2 separate regions of the Homo sapiens genome follow, and region 1 is linked to region 2. The links come from fine-mapping of genetic effects on gene expression. Tissue or cell type: lung. Region 2 holds a variant in brackets; the other region holds the start of a gene. All regions are shown on one strand. Distances are from middle to middle.

Region 1 (8,088 bases), 110 kb after region 2:
TGTATATATTATGGAATATAACATGTTTTGATATATGTATACATTGTGGAATGGCTCAGTCAAGCTCATTACCATATATGCATTACCTCACATACTTATTTTTGTGTGGTGAGAACACTTAAAATCTACTCTTAGCAAATTTCAAGTATATCATATTCATATATATATTTGGGTTTTTTTTTTTTTTGAGACCCAGGCTGGGGTGCAGTGGCTGAATCACAGCTCACTGCAGCCTCAATCTCCCACCCAGATTCAAGTGATCCTCCCGCCTCAGCCTCCTGTGTATCGGGCTACGGGGGCGTACCACCACACTCAGCATTTTTTTTTTTTTTAAATTAAATTTTTAGTAGAGATGGGGGTCTGGCTATGTTGACCAAGCTGGTTTTGATCTCCTGAGCTCAAGCGATTCTCCTGCAGGCATGAGCCATTGCACCTGGCCCTGGATCAGGGTGTTCTAATTAAACAATGGGATGTGTTTGGACAATCAGGCTGAATGGAAAGGTATATATTATAAGCCTCTTCTAGGCAAAGCAGTTAGCCTTAACACAGAGATGAAAGCTATGACCCCAGCCAGCAGGAAGCTAGGTGATTTTTCCTGTATCAGGACATGTACATTAGATATTCCACCGGCCTCAAAAGCTTTCCTCAGTTGCTCCATCTTATCATTCAGGGATTGGTCCTCATGTCACCTTCTCAGAGACCATCCTGGCCTCACTATCTAAAGCGACCATACACTTTCCTTTTTTATTTTTTATTTTTTTTGAGACAGGGTCTTGCTCTGTTGCCCAGGCTGGAATGCAGTAGCACCATCACGGCTCACTGCAACCTCGACCTCCCCAGGCTCAGATGATCCTCCCATCTCAGCCTCCCCAGTAGCTGGGACTACAGGCACATTCTACCATGCACGCGCCTATAGTTCGGTATTTTTTGCAGAGATGGGGTTTTGCCATGCTGCCTAGACTGGTCTCAAACTCCTGAGCTCAAGTGATCTACCCAAGTTGGCCTCCCAAACTGCTGGGCCACTGCGCCTGGCACCATTCACTTTCCTTTAACCATTTGATTTTCTTTATAACCATCACTTAGATATTTTCTTCTTCTTTTTTTTTTTTTGAGATGGAGTTTCACTCTTGTTGCCCAGGCTGGAGTGCAATGGCGAGATCTTGGTTCACTGCAACCTCCACCTCTCCAGTTCAAGCGGTTCTCCTGCCTCAGCCTCCTGAGTAGCTGGGATTACAGGTATGCACCACCACGCCTGGTTAATTTTGTATTTTTAGTAGAGACGGAGTTTCATTATGTTGGTGAGGCTGGTCTCGAACTCCTGGCCTCAAGTGATCTGCCCGCCTCAGCCTCCCAAAGTGCTGAGATTACAGACGTGAGCCACCCCGGCGCATTTGGTTGATATTTTCTTGATTGCCTGTCATTTTTACGTATTTATTGTCTGTCTCTTTCTGAACCCACCCAAACTTGCCAGTTCACTGCTATTGGGCTACACTGTCTAATAGGGAAATCACATGTGGTTACCAACCACTTGAAATGTGGCAAGTCAGAATTCAGATGGGCTGTAAGTAAAAAATACACAACACGTTTTGAACACTTAGCACAAAAAAAAATCTAAAACATTACATTACAATTTATTTGATTACATGTAGCAGGAATATTTTAGACATGTTGTATTGAAAGAGTTTTTAAATTGTCACCTAGTTCTTTTTTCTTTTTTTTAATGTGGCTACTTGAACATTTTAAATTACATACGTGGCTCACATTAGACTTCTGTTGGTCGGGGCTGGCCTAGAGGGTGCCTGGCACATAGTAGACGTTCAACAAATATTTGCTGAATGAATAAGTGAAGTCTAACCATTGCTCTGAAGATTTCAACTGTTGCCCATTGTATTTCCTTTACAATGGGCTTTATTCCATTTGAAAATAAGTTAAAACTCTGGCCTTTTTTGTACAGTAACTTGGCAGCTCTCAACAACCCTGCCCACACCCTCAAAACGAAGTTGTCAATCTTTAGGAAAACCCCAGAACTGGAAACAGATTTCTGTTAAAAAGGCAGGCTAGCTACAGATTGCTTTCAGATTGAACTGTAAGGAGGCAATGGAAATCAAACGGAAGCTATAAAAAGATTCACATAGGATCTACACAAACAGTAGGGGCCCTTTTAAAAAGAATTCTACGGGTAACACTCACTGAAAAGAAAGCCCTTATCTAGATGGGAAGGAGAGAGAGCTGCCTTTAACTCAATGCCTGACTTCAGCAAACAAAGAAATGTCATTTCCTAAATTAAAAAGTAACACCACCCCAGGGAATACCCAGATTTCAACCTTCCCACCCACAGTAACAAGCCATCAGCAATCAGAACCCTCCAGACCAGGATGAAGCTTGAACTTGGCTGCAAGATTACCATGAAGTTCTGGAACAAATTCTGAGCCCTAGGCCTTGAACCTGCTCTGAAAATTTCTCCTAAGGAAATTACATTTAAACTCGGGTCCTTCAAGACCTGGGACTCCCGGAATCAATTCTAAATCTATCCCAAGTGGGGTTCCGAGGGAAGGTCGTTGGAGGGGAGAGGGCCAAGGCGTGCATGCGTCTTGGGGTTTTTTTCCCCTTGCATAAGAGACACACCTTTCCCACTGAGATTTTATGTTCATCTGGGCTGGCTTGAGGTATATCCAATATCCTCTGACTTCCACGCTGTCTTCTGATGGGGATGGCAGTTAACAAGAATAGAGGCAAGGTCCCCACCCATCAGTGTATCCTAAATTTGCCTGATCATACATGTCACCAGGGATCAGCGTCTCCAGTCCCGCCCCACCTCCACTGACTTAATCTCCAGTGGGAGAGGCTGGGAATAGATTGTTTCAATAGGGAACCCAGACCCCAGACCCCATTTTTACCGGGTCCCAGCCACCCTCCGAGGAAGGTACTAGGATTATCCCATTTTGCAGATCAAAACTGAGACGTGGGTGGCGGTGGTTCAGTGGCTTGTCCACTGTCACGATCACACAGCTTGTGAGGGACAGAGGTGACTCCCATCCAGACATGCAAGTGCGTCCCCTGGCACCTGGGTACCCAGGGGCACCCACCCCCTTGGGGATCTCCGTTTTAGGGCTTGGTGCCCCCCGCCCCGAGTCCCACCCGGGAGCCCCCTCTGTCCCGGTCGGGGGATCTCCTCCCGCAGAAGCCCGATCTTCCCGATCCTGTCGCCGGCGGGAGTCAGGGTGGCGGCCACTGACAACGAAAGTGAAACAAAGCTGGTCGCCGGGCGCGCACCCCCGCCGGCCCCGCGCGGACCTCCCAGGCCGGACGCCCCCGCCGCGTCCAGCCCCCGCCCCACCCCGCCCAGCCCGCCCCGGGGTCGCCTCCCCCCTCCCCGGGGAGAACGGGCCAGGGCCCCGCCGGGCGGGAACGGGCGCGCCCGGCCCCACTCACCTCCGGCCTCCATGGAGGACGCGAGCGGCCCCCGCGGCAGGCGGCGGGCGCCTCAGCCCCCCGGGCCGCGGGCCCTCATGCCGCCCCCGCGCCGCCCGCCCCGGCCAGGCCGCCGCCGCCGCCCGGAGAGGCCATCAGCTGCTTCCCGTCACATGGCGGTGGGCGCGGGCGGAGACGCGCGGGGGCGGGGCGCAGGGGAAACGGAGGGGGGGTGCGGACGGGATAAAAACGGTGGGGGGCAGCTGAGGGAAAAGATGGAAAATCGGGGAGGCGGTACGCTGACGGGATAAAAGCTGAGGGGTTGCTCAGGGGAAACGGGGGCGGGGAAGACGCGCGAACCAGATAAAAATGGGGCAGGGGTGGGGGGAGCTGAGCGGAAACGGGGTGGGGCGCGAACGGGATAAAACCCAGGGGTTGTGCGGGGTCCTGAGGGGAACCAGCGCCGGATAAAAACGGGGAAGGGAGGGAGGTGAACAGAGCTGAGGGAAACCGGGAAAAGGGGAGCGATAGAAACCGGAGTAGGGGAAGCCGGGCTCAGGGGAAAAGGGGGTGTTGGAGAGTGGTAGAGCCGGGCTGAGAGAAAAACCAAGCAGGGGAAGCGGCGATCCGGGGAGAACGGAGAGAGGGAGACCGAGGGCTGTGGGGGTAAGGGGAACCAAAGGGGCTGAAGCGAAATCGAGGGGAGGGGCAGGTGAAAATGGAGCCATGCGAAGGCCGATGAGGGGGGAAACGGGTAAAAATGGGGGCGGGAGAAATAGGTTGGAGGGAATACTGGCCGAGAAGAAACCTGGGGAGAGCTGGGCTTAGGGGAAAATGGGGAGGGGGTGGAAGGAAGGTGTAATAACCGGGTGCTGGGGAGGACGTAAGAATTGGGGGGTGCGGCGAGGGTCAAGGCTAGGGTAAAACAAGGGGGGCTACTCAATGGCTCCGGTAATGGGAGAGGGAAGTGAGGAGAACACGGGGCGGTGGGGAGAGGAGGGCAGGGTGAAAACCGGAGTGGGGGTGGGAACGAGATAAAAAACGGGGCAGGAGCGATTCGGAAGAAGACTGTCCCCTTACCTACCTACGGCGACAGCCTCGCCTGTCCCCGTCCCCCTGAGAAACCTGCTCTCCCTGTCTACCCGCATAGCCTCAAGAAATGGCTCGCTTGGGTCAGACGCCCCCTTTTTAACATTCCAGGGCCAGGGCAGGAGTCATCATGGAGGCTTTTCATGCCTGAAAGACCCCATTTCTTAGTTGTCCGGTCCCCAGTAGTATCAGTGGCTTGGGGATTTCTTACTGAGCTCAGCTCATTGTCCCCAAAATGCCTCCCCTTACCCCCAACTCGAGCGCTTCCCTTTCCTGCTTTGGGCCCAAGCTCTTCCCGCGGTTCTTGGTGTCAGCTTCATTCAAGTCACTCTCCCGCCTCTCATTCCTTTCTCCCCGCCTTTCTTCGCTTCCCTCCAAGTGCCCTCTCCATTTGCCGGTCACTGGTCCCAGAGCTCCGGATCGCAGTGGTTCCATTTTAAATTTCTTTGCTTCCTAACGCAACCTATGTTTTCTACGGTAACTGAGGTTCCCGTGTTCTTTTTCACCATGGTCTCTCCGTTTTAATGTTTCGGGTTTTTTTACCCAGGCCCCTGTTTTATGAGCCCTGGGTACGTCCTTCCTGTGTCCCGTTTGGCCTCCTGGGTTACACTCCTGTTCACCCCGCTTGGCCGGTTTTTTTTTTTCTTTTCTTTGAACCTGCCGGTTTCTCAGTCTCCCCCTTTTCCGCTGGCTACCTGTCCCTTTCTCGCCGCCCATGTTAACTTTAGCATGCCCCGTTCTCTCTCTTCATTTTCCACTGGGTATTTTTTATGTTTCCCAATTTTAAAAACGGCCCAGCGCACCCCTTTTTTTGGGACTCCACTTTTATCTCTGGCACCAGTGTCGGCCTCCTCCACCTCTGCTCCCATTTAATCGCTAATTTCCTGCCTCCTGAGGACCCCCGTTTTATTGTCCAGGCTCCCCCCTCCCATTTTTCTCTTCTCTAATTTTCTGAGTCTCCATTTTTTGTCTCCCAAATTCCTTCGATTCCTGGAGTCTTACAGGCCTCGTTTTTATGTACACGTCATGGAAAAGAATAAAAGGGTAAGGTCGCGGGGCGCGATGGCTCATGCCTGTAATCCCAGCACTTTGGGAGGCCAAGGCGGGCAGATCACCTGAGGTCAGGAGTTCGAGACCAGCCTGGCCGATATGGCCAAACCCAATCTCTACTAAAAATACAAAAATTAGCTGGGTGTGGTGGCGGGCACCTGTAAACCCGGCTACTCGGGAGACTGAGGCAGGAGAATCACTTGAACCCAGGAGGTGGAGGTTGCAGTGAGCTGAGATCTTGCCATTGCACACCAGCCTGGGTGATGGAGGCTCCGTCTGGAGGAAAAAAAAAAAAAAAAAACAAAAAAGGCGGGGCTGAGGTGAGAAGAATATTGTTACCAATTTTTAAAAAGCTAGTAAAAAAAATTTTTTTTGGCAAGTTCGTTTTTCCAAGTCTTTCAATTTACTAACCAGGTCTCAATCAAGATCACAAAAGCACTTACTTAAAAATAGCTTTATTCCATTATCTTTTAAAAAAGGCATATGATAACCTCAGAACTAATTTCTCCCAACCTCCCCCCACCACATCTTAAAATGTAAATAATGGAGAAGGAGCTGCTTATTTTTCTTTGCAGCAGTTCCTGGCCAGTCCCAACGTGAGAAATATCAGTTGGCACTTATTGCATCATAATACATTTTGCCTAGTAAGGATGATTTTCTAAGTCTCAGTGCATGGGTTATTGCAATTTTCCATCTTGTGTTTTCCTGCGGCAATTATGGGGCTTGTATGTGCTTGTGAGAATTGGGGCTAATATCAAAGCCACAGAATTGTGGAGGCCCCCTTCCCAGGCTCCACCAGGGTTTGAGAAAAACAAGAAAAAAGTCAGTTGCAATGGACCTGAAGTGTGTATCTTCCTGGTCCTGATAAATAGATCTCATGGTCTCTAAGTTAACAATACATGCAGATAAGATTTTTTTTAAAGCACAGTGTAACAACTTGGACTTTGCCACACAAACTGTAATCCACTGTCAACAAGCTTGTGGATTTGGGCATGGATCGTCTTAAAGAAGCCCGAATTCTTCAAAAAATCCTTAAAACTTGAAGACCTGGATTTTACCTGACCCAGGATATTACTGTGCACACAGGACTCAGATATGTGACAGCAGTCACAGCTCAGCTGGTCAAAGGTTTATAGTGTTTGACACCAGGACCATGAAGCTCCCATTTGGTAGTGGAAAAACCCTCAAATATTTCCTATCAACAGATGTGTGTGCTAGAGAAGAGGAAGTTGTGGAAAATATCCCAGTGATCCTACAAAACATTCTCTGTGTTCCTAGCTAGGGTTTTTTTTTTTTTTCACCTCAACAGTTTTTGTGTTTTCTTTTTTTAATCTTGTTGCCTCTGAGTAGTAGACTCTTCAATTCTGGAATTTGGTTGCCGAAGACTCTAAAGGAGAGACTCACTCAGTAATTCAGTGACTTTAGAAGCAAGCTGAGTATCTCATTCTAAAATGACACTGATTTACACTGTTGAGAATGGTTAAGTACGTGGGGTACCTTGCAGCAAAAGACAAAAAGCAAAAAGCCAGTAGACCTGCAATTCACAGCTATTCCTGAGGGGTGCACATTGCAGCCCACTCTTGAGCTCCCCAGTGTTCTGAGCAGGGGACAGGGCATACTTCTAGTGATTTGCTCAGTTTAATCCCTTCATCCAAGAAAACAGACCTTCCCCAACCACACCTGCAGGGTTACTTCAGACAACCAGCTTCTCATTTTAGAGTCCCAGTTCCTAGAATTGGAGAAAGGAAGTTCCCCTTTAAGCCCTAGGTCCTGCCCACTAGAGCAGATACGCAACATTAAAGAGTGCAAATTCAAGTCAGTTTTTCATATTTAGCAAACATCCATTGCACCCTTATAAGGTCCTCGACTTTAAGAAATTTATATGAAATCGGAAAACTTAAATCTTGAAACTATACAAGGATCTACTGGAAGCATCAGCAGGCTAAACTCATCACATGGTATTTTCATTCCAAATTTAGTGTTATTGATCAGTGTACCCTCAGAATATCCTTAAGAAGCAGGAAGGAAACAAGTTTTCCTCTTCCCACTTCCAAGACTGAGAAAGAGTCCAGATGAGCTGGTTTGCCCAAGCAATTCTTATCACCAGATACTCCGTTATTAAACGTGTCTCCTGCCTTCTTTGAAAGCAACAGGAGAAATGAAGCATAGGAAAGTCTGCAAGCTAACAGTGTATCACCTAGGAGGCTTGTATATAAATATGAAGCTCTGCAAAATGTAGTTATAATGAAAGGCACTTCCTATTACCAGCTCCCTAACTCTTTTTAAAAGAATTCTATCTCCAGGGAAATAAAACTGGTTAAGACAGTGCTCTGATATGCTTAGTTTAGTTCCTTCATCCAAGAAAACAGACCTTCCCCAACCACACCTGCAGGGTTACTTCAGACAACCAGCTTCTCATTTTAGAGTCCCAGTTCTTAGAAATGGAGAAAGGAAGTTCCCCTTTAAGCCCTAGGTCCTGCCCACTAGAGCAGATACGCAACTTTAAAGAGTACAAATTCAAGTCAGATTTTCATATTT
Region 2 (8,104 bases):
GCCAGGTGTGGTGGCATGTGCCTGTAATCCCAGCTACTTGGGAAGGTGAGGCAGGAGAATTGCTTGAACCCGGGAGGCGGAGGCTACAGTGAGGTGAGATTGTGCCACCACACTACAACCTAGGCAATAGCAAGACTCTGTCTCAAAAACAACAACAACAACAACAACTTTTGGCCGTGCGTGGCGGCTCACACCTGAAATCCCAGCACTTTGGGAGCTGGAGGCAGGAGGATCACCTGAGGTCAAGAGTTCGAGACCAGCCTGGCCAACATGGTGAAACCCCCATCTCTACTAAAAATACAAAAATTAGCTGGGCGTGGTGGCGCACACCTGTGATTCCAGCTACTTAGGAGGCTGAGGCAGGAGAATCACTTGAACCTGGGAGGCAGAGGTTGCCGTTAGCCAAGATTGCACCACTGTACTCCAGCCTGGGCAATAGAGTGAGACTCCATCTCAAAAAAAAAAAAAAAAAAAAATTTTAAAGGCTGCCTTGTGAAAGGACTTGAACAAACATTTCTCCAAAGAAGCTATACAGATGGCCAATAGGCACATGAAAAGATGTTCAACATCATTAGTCATTAGGGAAATGCAAATCAAATGCACAATGAGATACTACTTCACACCCACCAGGATAGCTATAATTTTAAAAATGAAAAATAACAAAAGTCATCAAGGATGTAGAGAAATTGCTGGTGGGAATGTAAAAAACGGTTGCAGCCACTGTGGCAAACATTATGGTGGTTCCTCAAAAAATTAAAAATAGCATTACCGTATAACCCAGTGATTCTGCCCCTGGTATACACCAAAAAGAATTGAAAACAAGAACTCAAACAGATACTCTCATACCAGTGATCATAGCAGTATTACTTACAATAACCAAAAGGTGAATATAACCTAAAAAATGTTCAACTTGATAGATGAATACACAAATGCTGACTATTCATACAATGGACTATTATTTAGCCATAAACACGAATGAAATGCTGATACATCATGAACCTTGAAATTGTATGCTAAGTGAGACACAAAATAACAAATATCATATGATGCTACTTACATGAGGTACCTAGAGTATTAAGTTCATAGAGAAAGTAGGATGACAGTTACCATGTGCTGGGCCAGGGGATGGGAGTACAGGGGAGTTACTGCTTAATGGATACAGAATTTCTGTTTGAAACAATAAAAAAACTTTTAGAAGTTGATAGTGGTAATGGTTACACAACATTATAAGTGTACTTAAGGCCAATGAATTATACACTTAAAAATAGTTGAAATGGGCAGGGCACAGTGACTCATGCCTGTAATTCCCAACACCGCTTTGAGGACAAGGTGGGAAAATCACTTGAGCCTAGGAGTTTGAGACTGGCCTGGGCAAGATGGCAAGACCCAGCCTCTACAAAAAATTTAAAAATTAGCTAGGCATGGTGGTGTGCACCTGTAGTCCCAGCTACTCAGGAGGCTGAGGCAGGACAATCACCTGAACCCAGAAGTTTAAGGCTCCAGCAAGCTGTGATCATGCCACTGCACTCCAGCCTGAGCAACAGAGCAAGACCCTGTCTCAAAAAAAAAAAAGTTAAAATGGTAAATTTTATGTATGTTTTCCATAATAAAAAATTGATTTAAGAAAATCATTTAGAGTGAGCTTGATGAGGTAGCACTCACCCTAAATCTGGACACTGGGCAAAGATGGGGCTGGACAACCTCTGAAGGGTCCCCCCTACCTTTACAGGATATGCTTTTCAGATGCTCAGACATCAGAGTTTTTAACTCTTCACCATGCAAGCTTAAGACAAGTCTAGAAGTTGCAAGGCCCAACCCCATACTTTGTTATCCAACTTAGAGTTGGGATGAGCATGTGGTTTAAAGACTAAGGCCTGCCGGCCACTGATGGGAGGTGCATCGTCTGTGGGCAAATTCAAAGATCCAGACGGAGTGTCAGGAATCCTGTTCCCTTCTGTCACCTGCAGCCTAGTGGGTGTGCCACTATGCTATAGAAGCCTTCTATGGGTTTCTTCTTCTCACACATTTGGGGCTCAGCTAACATTTACTGAATAAATGAATGATACATGCAAGGACGGTATCTCCCCAGATGGCAGTGCAGAGCTCAGCACCACACAGGGCTCAAGTACCCTCAGCTCCCTTCTGCCAATCTGCAGTGGGGATGATCATCAAAAATTGCAAAGCAAGAATTATTAAGAATTTGTGGCCGGGCACAGTGGCTCACACCTATAATCCCAGCACTTTGGGAGGCCAAGGCGGGTGGATCACTTGAGGTCAGGAGTTTGAGACCAGCCTGGCTAACATGGTGAAACCCCATCTCTACTAAAAATACAAAAAGTTAGCTGGGCATGGTGGCATGTGCCTGTAATCCCAGCTACTGGGGAGGCTGACACAGGAGAACCACTTGAACCCAGTACACGGAGGTTGCAGTGAGCTGAGATCGCGCCACTGCACTCCAGCCTGGGCAAGAGAGCGAGACCCTGTCTCAAAAAAAAAAAAAAAAATTTGCCATGTAACAGGCACTCGAATCTACTCAGCCCCTGAATGCATGATTCCATTTAATCACCTAACAACCTCATGTAAAATGATCATTTTATTTTATTTATTTTTGAGACAGGGTCTCACTCTGTTGCCCAGGATGGAATGCAGTGGCACAATCATGGCTCACTGCAGCCTCAATCTCCCTGGGCTCAAGTGATCCTCCCACCTCAGCCTCCCAGGTATCTGGGACCACAGGCATGCACCACTACTTAGACTCAGCTAATTTTTTATTTTTTGTAGAGATGCTATCTCCCTATGTTGCTCAGGTTGATCTCAAACTCCTGAGTTCAAGCAATCCTCCTGCTTTGGCCTCCCCAAGTGCTGGGATTACAGGTGTGAGCCACAATCCTGATTTTATAAACAAGGAAACTGAGGCTTGGCAAGGAAAGATCATTTGGCACAGGGTTACTTAGCTAGTTAAGTCCTGAACCAAATTGGAACCCAAACAATCTCACCTCAGAGCTCAAGCCCTCCTAACTACTAGTCTATATTGCTTAAAGCACCCATTTGAATTTGCAGGGAGTCAGGTTATTATTTCTGAGTCTTGATCTCACTTTTCTGGTTCAGGAAAATCAAACGCATCCATCTTTGGAATGCATGCACTGCTTTAATCAATGGCTGCCTGGTAACTCTCGGGGGATCAGATTTTCAGTCCTCATCAAGACCAAGATTTCTATTATGGCAAAACAGAGAAATCGCTTCAGTGCTCAAAAACAGCTCTGTTCCATAGCAATATACAGTGAGCCACCTTTGTAATTTAAAATTTTCTAGTAGCCTCAGGGGGTAAAAAAAAAAAGGAAAGTACATACAGGTGAAATTAATTTTAATATATTTTATTTAACCCAATATATCTAAAATGTTATCATTTTAACATGTCAATATAAAAATTATCAAGGCCAGCCAGGCGCAGTGGTTCACGCCTGTAATCCCAGCACTTTGGGAGGCCGAGACGGGCGGATCATGAGGTCAGGAAATCGAGACCATCCTGGCTAACACGGTGAAACCCCATCTCTACTAAAAATACAAAAAATTAGCCAGGCGTGGTGGCGGGCGCCTGTAGTCCCAGCTACTCGGGAGGCTAAGGCAGGAGAATGGCATGAACCTGGGAGGCGGAGCTTGCAGTGAGCCGAGA[T/C]TGAGCCACTGCACTCCAGCCTGGGCGACAGAGCAAGACTCTGTCTCAAAAAAAAAAAAAAAAAAAAAAAAAAAAATTATCAAGGCCAGGTATGGTGGCTGATGCCTGTAATCCCAGAACTTTGGGAGGCCAAGGCAGGAGGGCTGCTTGAGCCCAGGAGTTGGAGACCAGCCTGGGCAACATAGCAAGACCCGCACCTCTACAAAAAATTAAAAATTAGCCAGGTGTGGTGGCATGTACCTGTAGTCCCAGTTACTTGGGAAGCTGAGGTAGGAGGACTGCTTGAGCTCCGGAGGTCAAGGGTGCAGTGAGCCATGATTGCACCACCGCATCCCAGCCTGGGCGACAGAGCAAGACTTTGTCTCGCTAAAAAATAAAAAACAGAAAATAGAAATTATCAATGCAATATTTTATATTTTTTTTCCTTCATACTAAGAGTTTGGACTGGGGGTGGCTGCTCACCCCTGTAATCCTAGCACTTTGGGAGGCCAAGGCAGGAGGATCACTTGAGCTCAGGGGTTCAAGGCCAGCCTGGGCAACATAGTGAGACCCTCATCTCTCTTAAAAAAATTTTTTTTAATTTTTAAAAAAAGTTTGGAATCTGGTGTGTATTTGACACTAACAGCACATTTCAACTAGGACTCACCGTATTTCCGTTGGTCAATGGCCACATGTGGCAAGTGGCTGCCATACTGGATAGCTCAGGTCTAAAATATCTCCCTCTCTTTATCTCATCCTCCCCTGTCTCTATGTTTCTACTTTGTTTCTATCAGTCCTCTATTTCTCTCAAATAATTGTCATCCATAATAGTCACCAAGGAAAGCATTTTAGAGACAGATTAAGTATTCCATCATCGTGATTGTCATTAATCCTATGGCTGCCACCTCTAATCACATCATTACCATTAACGTCTACACTTCCCCTTCGCCCTCTGTTTCTCCTCATCTTTCTTTCTTCTCTTCCAGGAGATTTCACCTTTGGGGAGTCCACAGGAGAGCAGTAAACCTCTGTCTGTTCCTGTGTCTGCGGCTGCCTTACTCGGTCAGTTTGGGTCAAATTGGTGACTCTAAACCTCAATAAACCTGCCTGTAAAGGAGCAACAACCACGGTTGTGGTCACGACCCATTGGAAGGACATTCCAAGCATCACAGAAGCCCTGCTGAAGAAAATCGTTCTATTTTTTTACTTTCTTCTCCTATTTTTGTCCCTTTTCCCTTCCCATCTTTCAGCTTCTCCATCCTCCTTCCTGGCCACCATGTGTCTCCTGTCCTCCTCAGCCTCTCAACACCTCCCCTGTCCCCACACCCAGAGCAGCACACGGTGGGCAAGAAGGAAGGCCAGGCCCTATCCCTCTTCCCAACAGTTGGGACCACATGGGTGGAAGCCCAGGAAATGACCCATTCTCTGGGGGTGGAAAGACTTCCTAGTTTTCTACTCATTGAAAGGTGATGGATTACAAATTGCCTGGTAGAATCCACTCTCAAAACCCAGAGGGAGGAGTGAACCCTTCAGACATAACATTTATCATGACTTAGAATTGTGAGTTACACACACACACACACACACACACGCACACCTTTATGAACACAAGGCAAAAGGAAAGGGCCAAGTCCTCACAGGCTGACCACCTTTTTTTTTTTTTTTTTTTAAACTGAGTCTCACTCTGTTGCCCAGGCTGGAGTACAGTGATGCAATCTCAGCTCGCTGCAACCTGCGCCTCCTGGGTTCAAGCGATTCTCCTGCCTCAGCCTCCCAAGTAGCTGGGATTACAGGCATGTGCCCCCACACCAGCTAATTTTTTTGTATTTTTAGTAGAGACGGGGTTTCGCCATGTTGGCCAAGCTGGTCTTGAACTCCTGGCCTCAAGTGATCTGCCTGCCTTGGCCCCCCAAAGTCCTGGGATTACAGGCGTGAGCCACTGCACCCAGCTGAGGTTGACCACTTTGTGCAGAAGACCAAGTATTCCCCATTACCCCAGGTACCAAGGCCCTACCCAGTTAAAAACAGTAAAGATCTCATTCTGACCTGAGACAACAGCCTCCTTAACCCTGAGCTCTTAGACATCAAAACACTCACACTCAAAAAATAAAATAAAATATACACCTGTGCTGAGGGTATGGGGAAATGAACCCTTTCCAACACTGCTGGTGAAGGGCAACTTGGCAAAACCCATGGAAAGTCCTAAACTTTTGCATATCCTTTGATCCAGCAGTTCCATTTCTAGGAGCTGAAAATAAGAATTAGCCACAAGGACGTCCACTGTGGCATTGTTATAAAAATGTAAAAGTATGAACATAAGCACCTGACAATAGAATTTTGGTTAAAGAAATGATGGGGGCCGGGCATGGTGGCTCAGGTCTGTAATCCCAGCAATTTGGGAGGCCTAGGCGGGCAGATCACTTGAGATGAGGAGTTCAAGACCAGCCTGGCCAACATGGTGAAACTCCATCTCTACTAAAAATACAAAAATCAGCTGGGTGCGGTGGAATGCGCCTGTAATCCCAGCTACTCGGGAGGCTGAGGCGCAAGAATTGCTTGAACCTGGGAGACAGAGGTTGTAGTGAGCGGAGATCACGCCACTGCGCTCCAGCCTGGGTGACAGAGTGAGACTCTGTCTCAAAATAAAGTGAGAAATGATGGGGCATCCATGTCATACTATGTAGCCATTACAAATAATACTTTTTACAGATATATAGAAAAAATAAGACCTAGTGTTGAACAAACCAGTAGAGTGAGTACAGTAAACAATAATCTATTGTATATTTCAAAATAGCTAGAAGAGAATAATCCGAATGTTCTCAGTATAAAGAAAAGATAAACATCTAAGGTAATGGATAGCCCAGTTACCTGGATTTGATTATTATACATTATATGAATGTATCTAAATATCACACATACCCTGAAAATATGTACATCTATTATGTATTAATTAAACAATAATAATACTTTAATAATTTGAAAAATTGGTTCATGGTCTATTAAGTGAACTTCGTATCTCCAGCCTTTCTCAGAGCTCCAAGCTCACACATCCAGCTGTCTACTTGACAAATGTAGCATGTCAAACAGGACTTGACTGTCAAACCCAATCTATTCCACCTCCAGTCTTACATTTCAAACAAGGGGACCCCCATTCTCCTAGCACTCAAGCCAAACACCTAGGAATAATCTTCGATTCTTGATTCTCCTTCACATCCACATCAGATTCATCAGCACCTTCCACATACTTGATCTTCTGAATCCAGCCACCTGCCCCATCCACCCCACAACAATCATACCAGTCAAAAGCACAGTCATTGAGGGCTTGGACTTCCACAATAACTACCAACTTGTCTCCCTGCTCTCATTCCTACCTCCTACAGTCTGTTTACCCTGCAGCAATCAGAAGATCATTTAAAAATATAACCCCTGGTTCAAAGGGCTTCTATCACAGTTAGAACAAAATCCAAGGCTGGACATGATGGCTCACACCTGTAATCTCAGCACTTTGGGAGGCCAAGGCATGAGCATCACTTGAGCCCAGGAGTTGGAGACCAGCCTGAGCAACATAGGGAGACCCTATCTCTACAAAATTTTTAAAATGTAGCCAGCGATGGTGATGCACATCTGCAGTCCCCGCTACTTGGGAGGCTGAAGTGGGAGGAAGGACTGAGCCTGGGAGGTCGAGGCTTCAGTGAGCCATGACAGTGCCACTGCACTGCAGCCTGGGTGACAGAGTGAGACCCTGTCTCAAAAGAAAAAAAAAAAAAAAACTTCAAGTACCTTAGCGTCTTAGCAAAGCCCCCTATGACCAGCTTCTGTCTCCCACTGCGTCCCTCTTCATCCTTTCCCTGCCCACTCCCTGCTCTCCAACCACAGTGGACTCCTTGGGGTTCCAATAACATGCCAAGCATGTTCCCATCCAAGAAGTTTGCATCTGCTGTTCCCTCTGCCTGGCACACTCTTCCCCCAAATATTTCATGGCTTGGCTTCCTCAAGTTAGTAAAACCTCCATGAAAGAGCCTTTGTTGATCATCCCATATCTTTCCCTTGCTCCCCTATGCTCTTTTTGTTTTGGTTGATTTTCATGGCTGTGGTATATTGTGACATTAGATTGTTCATTAGCCCCTCAATAAACCACACCTCCTGGAATCCATAGTCACACTGACTCTGGGCTTATCTATGTAACATGCTCTGGCAAAGAGGACATTAGCAAAGGTTGCAGAACCAGAGGCTTAGGAAGGGCTTGCACACTGGCGCCTGTCCTCTAGGAACACCGTTGCTGCCACCATGTAAGAAACCCGGGCTATCCTGCCAGAAAAGCCATGGAGCAGAGAAGTGAGGCACTGTAGCCAACCACCAGCCATGTGAGCAGGGCCATCTCGGACCCTCCAGCCACAGTTGAGCCATCAGATAAACACAACCACAAGTGAGTCAGGCAAGATCTGCAGAACT

What was found. PIP is the estimated chance that this variant, and not a neighbour inherited with it, causes the effect.
Region 1: it holds the start of WSB2, and the variant in region 2 is fine-mapped to the expression of WSB2 in lung (TOPMed, PIP 0.94).

The regions. Positions count from the first base shown.
Region 1 is chr12:118,057,604-118,065,691 of GRCh38, forward strand. It overlaps WSB2 (WD repeat and SOCS box containing 2), which reads right to left and starts at 3,576. Exons shown (of 9, transcript NM_018639.5): 1 at 3,433-3,576. The coding sequence starts at 3,445. VSIG10 (V-set and immunoglobulin domain containing 10) reads right to left here. Exons shown (of 9, transcript NM_019086.6): 9 at 5,990-8,088. It overlaps LOC124903030 (a long non-coding RNA gene), which reads left to right and starts at 3,857. Exons shown (of 2, transcript XR_007063479.1): 1 at 3,857-4,077. RefSeq lists a silencer at 2,986-3,035.
Region 2 is chr12:117,952,530-117,960,633 of GRCh38, forward strand. The region is part of intron 1 of KSR2 (kinase suppressor of ras 2); the gene reads right to left. Among named protein-coding and RNA genes, the nearest start is that of KSR2, 12 kb to the right of the region's middle. The variant T/C (reference allele first, on the strand shown) is at 3,674.